Homo sapiens: one gene and its partners. The protein of the gene in region 2 purifies or fractionates together with the protein of the main gene of each other region. This does not show direct contact. Each region holds a gene or a part of one and is shown on either strand. Other genes may lie near its edges.

What was found.
Region 1: the proteins of IFTAP (region 2) and WDR19 purify together in Homo sapiens (affinity purification with mass spectrometry; 3 studies listed by BioGRID and IntAct, with this or other methods). This does not show direct contact.
Region 3: the proteins of IFTAP (region 2) and IFT140 purify together in Homo sapiens (affinity purification with mass spectrometry; 3 studies listed by BioGRID and IntAct, with this or other methods). This does not show direct contact.

The regions. Positions count from the first base shown.
Region 1 is NC_000004.12:39,283,395-39,286,333, forward strand, and holds the end of WDR19 (WD repeat-containing protein 19), read left to right. Parts: intron 1-2,092; 3' UTR 2,093-2,416; downstream 2,417-2,939. UniProt on the Homo sapiens protein: As component of the IFT complex A (IFT-A), a complex required for retrograde ciliary transport and entry into cilia of G protein-coupled receptors (GPCRs), it is involved in cilia function and/or assembly.
Region 2 is NC_000011.10:36,635,991-36,639,647, reverse strand, and holds part of IFTAP (intraflagellar transport-associated protein), read right to left. Parts: intron 3,598-3,657; coding exon 3,531-3,597; intron 1-3,530. UniProt on the Homo sapiens protein: Seems to play a role in ciliary BBSome localization, maybe through interaction with IFT-A complex.
Region 3 is NC_000016.10:1,514,487-1,518,143, forward strand, and holds part of IFT140 (intraflagellar transport protein 140 homolog), read right to left. Parts: intron 1-3,657. UniProt on the Homo sapiens protein: Component of the IFT complex A (IFT-A), a complex required for retrograde ciliary transport and entry into cilia of G protein-coupled receptors (GPCRs).

The DNA of each region.
Region 1 (2,939 bases), on a different chromosome or scaffold from region 2:
TTTTTTTCAAGTGTTATTATCAGGCTGAATTTAGGTCTACAATTTTGTTACTTGTTTTTTATTTGTCCTATCCACTTTTTGTTCAGTTCCTCTTGTCTTGCCTTCTATTTGACTAAATATTTTTTCGTATTTCATTTGATTCTTCTATTGACTTTTTACCTATGTTTTTACAAAATTTTGTACTTGATTAATATCCTATTATATATATACACACACACACAAATATACATATGTACACATTATAAATCCTGTAATACAATGATATAATTTTTCTTTAGTTGTGTCTTTTTAAAGGAAATTATAAAGAAAAAAATACAATGTAGCTTTACATTTACCCACATTTATAATTTCCATGTTATTCTTGCCTGAATCCAAGTTTCCATATGGTATTATTTCCTTTCAGCCTGAAGTACTTCCTTTGACATTTCTTACATGTGCAGGTTTGCTGGTGACTTCTTCTCTGTCTTTATTTTCCTTCATTTTTGAGGATATTTTCGCTTGATATGGAATTCTGAGGTTTTCTTAAAGCACTTTCACGATTGTCTCCAGTATCAAACTTCATTGTTCCCCTGCATTTACTGGTTTCTTTCTGGCTACATTCAAGGAATTCTCTATTTTTGGTTTCCAGAATTTTGACTATACTTGCCTGGGTGTGGTTTTTAAATTTTTTTAACTTGGGATTTTCTAGAATTCTCGAATCTGTATGTTTATATTTTTCCCTCAATTGGGACATTTTGAGACATTATTTCTTCAATCACTTTTTCTATCCCTTTCTGTCTTCTCATTCTGGAACTCCAGTAATATCTGTGTTTGACTACTTGATGTCAAGGTCACTAAAGTTCTTTCCTCTGTCATCTTTTTTTTCTGTTCATATTGGATAATTAGTTTTGATCTATATTCTAGTTCACTGACCTTTCTTCTAAGTAAGTAAAAAAAATTTTTTTTTTTTTTTTTTTTTTTTTGAGACAGGATCTCACTCTGCTGCCTGGGCTGGGGTGCAGTGCCACAATCATCGTTCACTGCAGCCTCAAACTCCTGGGCTCAAATGATCTTCCTGCCTCAGCCTTGCAAGTAGCTATGACTACAGGCATGTGCCACCATACCCAGCTTTTTTTTTTCTTTTTTTTAGACATGGGGTCTCACTATGTTGCCCAGGCTGGTCTTGAACTCCTGGACTCAAGTGATCCTCCCACCTCAGCCTCCCAAAGAAGTGTTGGGATTACAGCTGTGAACCACCATTCCTGGCTTTCTAAAAAAAAAAAAAAAAAAAAAATTCAGATTTTGTCCCAAGTTTATAACTGTTATCTATGGGAAAATTAAACTGCAAGTGGAACCTTGTATTTTTAAAAAACATCCACAGAATCTCTCCAAACACTATCAATCAATCATGGCATTAGATTATGCTTTATACAAAACTTCAAGTAACCAGACCATGGTACATCATAGCTCCTTGCAGATATGTCTTCATTGAGTTATGATTATGCACTATCCTTCAGAAACGTCACTATAGCCAGGCGCAGAACCTGTGGCCATAGTCGCAGCTACTCAGGAGGCTGAGGCATGAGGATCACTTGAGCCCAGGAGCTCAGGGCTCTAGGAGACTATAATCATGCCTATGAACAGCCACTGTACTCCAGCCTGGGCAATGTAACAAGACCCCATCATCTCCTAGGAAAAAAAAAAAGACACACACAAAGTCACTGTAAGCATCCTTATACAGTGAATACTGGTTGAAGCTGTTGTTCACTGGCGTTTAGACAAATATAACTGTTTAATTTCAGGAAAATTTTTTCTCTACAAATTGCTGAGCACTTTGCATTTGTTCTTCCCAGTGAGATGGCTGTTATCATCAGCATCCTTACTTCATTACAAAGGCTCAAGAGCTTACCCACACAATTTTAGTCAGTTGGCAAGGCTAATACTGAAACTTGATGCGGATTACAGTCTAGAGATTTCTAACTTGAATGTTTCCTGTTCCACATTCTAGAAACAGGCAAAAAAAAATTCTTTTTAGTATGTTTGGCTTTATTACTAAATGCCAGCCATTACTTGAAACCCTTCTAGAGGCATGTGTTCTGTTTGTCCTTTCTAGATACAATGCTCCTGAGAAGACAGCATTTTCCACAGGAGGCTGTTTCCTCCCCTGGTGGATTTAAGAGACGGTCCTTTCTGGATACAGAGAAATGAAACAACGGTGACCTCTCCAGGTCGGCACTTTCCACTTCTGTACGGTGGCAAAACGATGACATGTAACCTTGCTGTTTATTGTACTTTGTATATTATTTCCTCTTCAAAGTCTTTCTTACACACTCTATCCTCTGCACTGTTAATAGTAACCTATGACATAATTGTAAATATTCAGCTTTTTGCTAACTTTTGTATTTTGAAAAACTTTAAAATAAAATTGTTGACTAGATATCTGTGACGTTTTTCTGGATTTGGAGACAGAAAAAGAGATAAAGGTAGTTCTGAAGGACATTGTCAAGTTTGAACACAGATGTGAATGGTGTAAAAAGCTTGAAATGAAAAGCTGTTGTTTATACAAATCACAGCTATTAAGCAGAATCAATCAGCCCAGAAGCAAAACATCAAAAATTAGGAAAACCAATCTTGTAAAGAATGAATGAAACTATCAGCTTATATCTATCTGCCGAGTCATTCTACTGCATACTACAGAATTCCCGTCACAAAATTAAGTCATTTGACTTCCCCTGAAAACATACATTGTTTGTTTGGAATCATCTTCTCTGAGGCTGTGTGAAGGTTCTTTTTCCCCATATCACACATACAACACACACCATCTGTACACACACACACACTCTCTCTTGCTCCAAGGGAGTACATACTTCTTCTTCTTTTCCCACATCAGTATATGCTTCCTTGCCATCCAAGGCCAGTCACCAAAGTCTGAGCAGCTGACAGAAATGAGTCAGGGAGTC
Region 2 (3,657 bases):
AAGAACTGATTGTTGAAAAGAGCCTGGCACCTCTTTCCCTCTCTCTCGGTTCCTCTCTCGTCATGCAGTTTCTGCACATGTGGTTCCCCTTTGGCTTCCCCAGAAGCACACGCTGGCTCCATGCTTCTTGCACAGCCTGCAGAACCATGAGCCAAATAAACCTCTTTTCTTTACCCAGCCTCAGGTATTCTTTTACAGCAACATAAATGGACTAAGGCAGAAGTACAGTACTGGAGAACCTGAAAATGAAAATCAAACAAGGCTGCCAACCTTTGAGCAGGAATCAGTGCCCATTCTCAGTCAATACAATCAGCCACACCATAAGTACACCCGCTGACCAAGAGATGTGTGTAAGACAGTATGAATCTCAGAAGTAGATTAAAAAAAAAAAAAAGTCTCTTGAGCTACTTGCACTTGACCAGAAAAGAGGTTGGGCTGGGCCCACCGAGGAAGCATAAAAATAAAGATGAACAGAAAATCTTCCTATTCTAATGTCCTCAGCACAATAACTAATAACTGATCCAAACAATAATTGTGCTGGGTAAAAGTATGGGCCAGTTTGTCTGAGGCATGACAGTCACCAGGTTAACTACCTTATCTCAAATTCAAAAAAGGAAGAATAGGTTAACTTGATGTCAAATAAACACAGTGCACCAAACTCTGTGGCAGACGCTACCCTCAGAAAACTGCTTAATACCATTGCTTAATAGAGTTGGCTCCACTGAAAAACCATCTCCAATCTTTCCACCTGGGCTGCCAAGTGATAAAACAAATATTAGAAAAGAATCATGCTCCTAAATCTTAGAGAATATTTATGAGAGTGAATGGGGTGAACAAATAAAGTCAATGGTAGAAAAACAATATGCAAGCCACTTCCTTGTTGCCCCAAGCAAATCTGTTGCTTAAACAATAACAACGGAATCTAATCAGTAAACCTCCCAGCTGCCAAAATTATACAAGCAACTTTACTATTTAAAATGTCACATTTCCCATCTGATATAAATATTTGCCTTCTGCTCACATTCCTGAAGTGTAAAACAAATTAGGCCCAAACTAAAATTCGCCTTGGCACCAACTATTTAATTTCTTTTCCCTTTAAATGACCCAGATTGTGCATTATGAAAATTGTAAAGCCCTGGTGGCCTTTTCAGTAATTAGAATAGATTGCTGAAGCCTAGGTTGATTTTCAGCATAGGCTTCACACATCATTCTATGTGTGGGAAGGTCTTGACGAGTTCATTCAAGTCTTGGTTCAGCCTCAGTAATCTTTTATACACAAATACAAGAAGGCTTGTTATCTGATTTCTGGAAAAATCATACTAGTAAGATGTTTTTATCAATATTTTAAAATAAATCTGGTAATTGAAAAATGTAACTTGAAAAAAATATTTAAAGAAAACAATGTGAAAATACTGAAGAAGGTAAAAAGGCGATTTAAAAGATTGACGGGCCGGGTGAGGGGGCTCACACCTGTAATCCTAGCACTCGGGCGGGCGGTGGGGCGGGGTGTGGCCGAGGCAGGTGGATTGCCTGAGCTCAGGAGTTCAAGACCAGCCTGGGCAACACAGTGAAACCCTATCTCTACTAAAATACATAAAAATTAGCCAGGCATGGCAGCATGCACCTGTAATCCCAGCTACTTGGGAGGCTGAGGCAGGAGAATTGCTTAAACCTGAGAGGCAGAGGTTGCAGTGAGCTGAGATCATGCCATTGCACTCCAGCCTGGGCGACAGAGTGAGACTCCATCTCAAAAAAAAAAAAAGATTGACATAACAAAAATCAGATCTGTTGGCTATGTTGGTTTATGTCAATATACAGAGTTCTCATACTGGTAAGAAGTGAAAAATTTAAACCATCACAAAAGCACCCAAAACATGTACTTTTGTGCCCTCTTATGAAATTTATTTTATATTGCATATGTATTACATGCAGACTAGAACCATTTGTCTCCACGTGTTATCCTCAAATTAATTATATTAGAATCATTGGGGGTGTCGGTTAAAATGCAGATCACCAGATGCCACCAAAGACCTTCTGAATTAGATTCTCTATTGGGAGGGAGATCCAGAAATCTGCATTTTTAACAAGGTTCCCTCCCCCAAATCACCCAAAACCCAAAACAGTGTGCTTCCTCTACAAATGTAGCTTCCTGACAAGTCCTTAGCTCTCCCTTCTAATCCAACTGGAGTCCCTTTGCTGCTCTCATTATAGAAATTCAGAGCCACTCAGGGTATTAAAGTTAGAGAACCTCTCCCTGGAGGATGTGATCCCTCTAGACCTCTGATCTCACTTAAACCAAATAAGTAAAGAATCTGCAACATCTGCTGGTTAATAGTGTGCTTGAGAAGCAATCCCTTCACGGAGTAGTGTGATGCTTGAAAGCAGAATAAAAATGTTCATTTCTTCCAATTACCAAAACCTCTCAAATTCAAGCAGCTGAAGAAGCTAGAGTAGAGGTTTATACAACCAATGTACAGATAGTCACCATCCCTAAACCAACTTTACCTAGTCACTTTAACTTCTGTCTGATTATAAATAAGCCATCCTCCCCCAACACTAATGACCATAAAACATGTTTATGACCACCTAAAGACAGTAAACAATAGTTAAACATCAACAACCAAACCTCCGTGGAAACTGCCCCTTCTGTAAAATTAGGCATTGACTTTGATATATTCTTGCATGTTAAATCAGGAATGAGTGTTTAAAAAAAAAAAAAAAAAACTTCCTGATTTTGAACATATTTCAAACATCCTTCGAGAAACAAAGGATACCTATGCCTATCCAGAAATGTTAACTAGAAAGAAAAAAGTTTTCCTCTAAATAAACATCAACAGACTAGCATGAAGCCTTTTTCAATCCAGCCCATGTGGAAAATGCCTCAGAAGAAACATTTACAATATATCTTTAGTATTAAGGGTTTAATTTACATAATAAATATTTTTAAAAGCAAAAAAATGGATTTTCTTTTATTTTCTTTAGAATAGTTCACTGAAGCCTGCATAGATTTTCAGCCTAGGCTTTGCATCTTATTCTACATGTGGGAAGGCCTTGACATTAGTTCACTCAAATCCACTGAAACTTGGTTCAGCCTCAGTAACCTTTAATACCAGGCAAGACAGCCTTATTTTTGTGATCAATTCTGATATTTTTATGATTTTTATGATTAATAGGTATTTTATGTGTCCCTCAAAAATAATTTCAGTTTACAAGACTGTACCTCTAGGAAACAGAGTTGACTTACAATGGCTCCACTTGAGACAATTACCTAAGAATCAATCCTGTGATGAATTGTTAAGGGGGAGAGCACATCTTTATTTCATTTAAGACCAAAGGTTTCACAATCTTCAAAAAGCTTTGACCTTTCAGGTGAAATTTTTGTTACTGAAAAAAATAGCTCACAACTTTAGTTCTTCCTGTCTTAGGAGAGGTGGAGGTAAGAATTGCCAAAAACAGGAAAGCTGTCTAAAGCCTTATTTGTAGTTTCTAGAAAGAGGTCAGGTAGTATAGAAAGGAAATAGAAAGCATACCCTCACTCATTTGGGGTTTAATCTCTTCATCCATGTCCAAATCTTCTAAATCTAGGAAATTATCTACCTAGAAAAAAGAATTAACATAATTTTTAAGCAGAATAGACCTAAAGAAAAACTGCAGTGA
Region 3 (3,657 bases), on a different chromosome or scaffold from region 2:
CTGCCCTCGTCACTAGTTGCTCCCACACTACACATGAGGCAGGGGAGGTGCAGACTTTAAGCCAACTCACGCTACAAGCAGGGATTTCAGCTGCTATCCACCACAGGGGAAAGAGTTTCGGCTCTGAGCTGAGCAAAGGTGATTGCCTAATAAAATGAACCAAAAAAAAGCAATACTCTTTGGAGGAATGTAACAGAATCCAGAGTCTCTACAATGGATTATCCACAATGTCCATGATACAAAAAAATGACTAGACATAAGAAACAGGAAAATTTGACCCATACTCAAAAGGCAAGTAATGGAGATCAATCCTACATGACCCAGATATTGGAACCGGTAGCTAAGATTTTACAGCAGCAGTTACAACTCTGCTTTAGGATATAAATATAAAATATATTTTAAACAAATTAACAAATAGGGAATTTTAGCCAATAAATAATAAAAAGAACTAAGTGTAAATTCTAGGGCTGCAAAATACAAGCTCTAAAAAGATTGCTGGAGAGGTTAACAGCAGATTGAAGATAGCTAAAGAAAGTCTAGATAAATACAAATTAATCCAAAGGACAGAAAAAAAGAAAATAATGAGCAGTAATCACAAATGTGTGTCTACTAGATATGGAAGACCTAACATTTAATTGGAGTCCCAGAAGGAGAAAAAGAGCAAATTTCCCAAATTTGGCAAAACACAAATATAGATCCCAAAAGCCCAGGATAAATACAATGAAAACACCTAGGAACATCATTATCGCACTGCTGAAACACAAATTCAAGAAGAAAGTCATGACAGCAGCCAGTGCAGTGGGAGATGGAGAGACACATGACATGTAAGGGCCCCACAGACAGCCCATAGCTGACTCTTCCAGAAACAATGGAGGCCCAGACAGGGAAAACATTCAAGTGCTGAAAGGAAAAAAATCTGTCAAATCAGGATTTTTTTTGAATCAGGATCTTGCTTTGTCACCCAGGCTGGAGTGCAGTGGTGCTATCACAGCTCACTGCAGACTCAACCTCCTGGGCTCAAGCAGTCCTCCCACCTCAGCCTCCCAAGCAGCCAAGACTGCAGGTGCATGCCACCATGCCTTGCTATTTTTTTCAGAGATGGGGTCTCACTTGTTACCCAGGCTGGACTTGAACTCCTGGCCTCAAGAAATCCTCCCACCTTGGCCTCCCAAAGTGCTGAGATTACAGGCATGAGCCACTGTGCCTGGCCTCAGAATTCTCTATCTGATGAGAACAACCTTGAAGAATACAGGCAAAATAAATACATTTCAGATTAACGAAAAGTAAGAAAATTCATCATCAGGAGATCTGAACTAGAAGAAATGTTAAAGGGAGCTCAGGCTGAAGAGGAGTGATACCACATGCAAATCGGAATCATAGGGAAGAAGTAAGAACACCAGAAATGACGCTTTGGGAGGCCGAGGCAGGCAGATCACCTGAGGTTGGGAGTTTGAGACCAGCCTGACCAACATGGAGAAACCCCATCTCCCCTAAAAATACAAAATTAGCCAGGCGTGGTGGCGCATGCCTGTAATCCCAGCTACTCCGGAGGCTGAGGCAGGAGAATCACTTGAACCTGGAGGGTAGAGGTTGTGGTGAGCTGAGGTTTGTTGCCCACTCCAGCCTGGGCTACAAAGAGCAAAACTCTGTCTCAAAAAAAAAAAAAAAAAAAAAAAAAAAAAAAAAAAAAAACACCAGAAATGGATGGTAAATATGTAGGTAAATGTAAAAGACTATTTCTTTCCTTTTAATTTCTTCAAAATACATATGACTGTTGAAAGCAACAATTATAACACTATACTGTGTTTATAATACATGTACATGTTACACATACGACAAATACAGGTGGGGACACGGGTGGGAAATGGACCTACCTGCTAACTCTAGTGTGGTAAGTATGTTTATGGTAATCTCCAGGGCAAACACTAGAAATACAATGCAAAGAGGAGTAGAGATAAAAAGCTGATAGCTAAAATGAAATTATAAAAAATAGTCCACTAAGGCCAGGTGCGGTGGCTCACGCCTGTAATCCCAGCACTTTGGGAGGCCGAGGCGGGCGGATCATGAGGTCAGGAGATCGAGACCATCCTGGCTAACACGGTGAAACCCTGTCTCTACTAAAAATACAAAAAAATTATCTGGGCGTGGTGGCGGGCGCCTGTAGTCCCAGCTACTCGGGAGGCTGAGGTAGGAGAATGGCGTGAACCCGGGAGGCAGAGCTTGCAGTGAGCCGAGATTGCACCACCGCACTCCAGCCTGGGCGACAGAGCGACACTCTGTCTCAAAAAAAAAAAAAAAAAAAAATCAACTAAAAAGAAGGCAGGAAAAAAGGTTTAAAGTAACAATAATAAAAACTGGTAGAAAAAGTTGACTGGTAGAAAACTGACATGAAAAAGATGGATGGGATTACCATCAGAGTGAGACACTGCAGAAGGAAAGCTGGTAAACTTGAAGCAACAGAAATGGCAAATCCCTAAAATGAAAAACAGAAAAAGTCCTTGGGGGAGAAAAGAAGAGCATCAGTTGAGCTAGGGGATGGTACTGTATATACAAGTCATTGGAATTTCAGAAGCAGAGGAAAAAAGGAATAGAAGGGAACTTCGGCCAGGCGCGGTGGCTCACGCCTGTAATCCCAGCACTTTGGGAGGTGGAGGCGGGTGGATCACTTGAGGTCACGAGTTCAAGACCAGCCTGGCCAAATGGTGAAACCCCATCTCTACAGGCATGCTGATGCACACCTGTAGTCCCAGCTACTTGGGAGGCTGAGGCAGGAGAATGGCGTGAACCCAGGAGGCGGAGCTTGCAGTGAGCCGAGATCGCGCCACTGCGCTCCAGCCTGGGCAACAGAGTGAGACTCCGTCTCCAAAAAAAAAAAAAAAAAGTACAATAATAAGAAAACCCAATAAAATGATGAGAAGAGACTTGAAGCCTTCACAGAAGGTGTGTAAATGGATAATAAGCACATGAGAAGGAGCTGCACATCACTACTCATCCAGAAAATGTGAATTTAAACCTCAGCAAGGTACTGTTCACCCCCTAGGATGGCTACAGTTCGAAAGAATGATCAAATGTTGGTGGGGATGAGGAAAACGCTAGAACACTGCGGCTGAATAAGTGATTAGCTGGTCACTTTAAAGTGACTACACGCTGTCTCTAAAATTAAAAAATAAGCGACTAAAAAATGGAACACCATTTTCTTTTTTTGTGAAAATCCCTGAAAAAGAAATCGTGGTTATTCAGACTCGGGTACATGCAGACATTTCTTCACAAATAAAGTAAGTCTGTCGCTTTCCTGCGACACTGCTAGTAACAGCCAGTAACAGCGTGAGACTGTTACTTTTTGCTACCGACAGATTTTTTTTTTCTTTTGAGACAGGGTCTCGCTCTGTCACCCAGGCTGGAGTGCAGTGGCGCCATCAGATCTCACTGCAGCCTCAACCTCCTGGGCTCAAGGGATCCTCCCACCTCAGCCTCCCAAGCAGCTGGGACCCCAGGTGTGAGCCACCATGCCTGGCTAATTTTTCCCCTTTTTGTAGAGATGGGGTTTCACCATGTCGCCCAGGCTGCTCTTGAACTCCTGGGCTCAAGTCATTCTCCTGCCTCAGCCTCCCAAAGTGCTGGGATTACAGGAGTGAGCCGCCACACACAGCCTCAGTT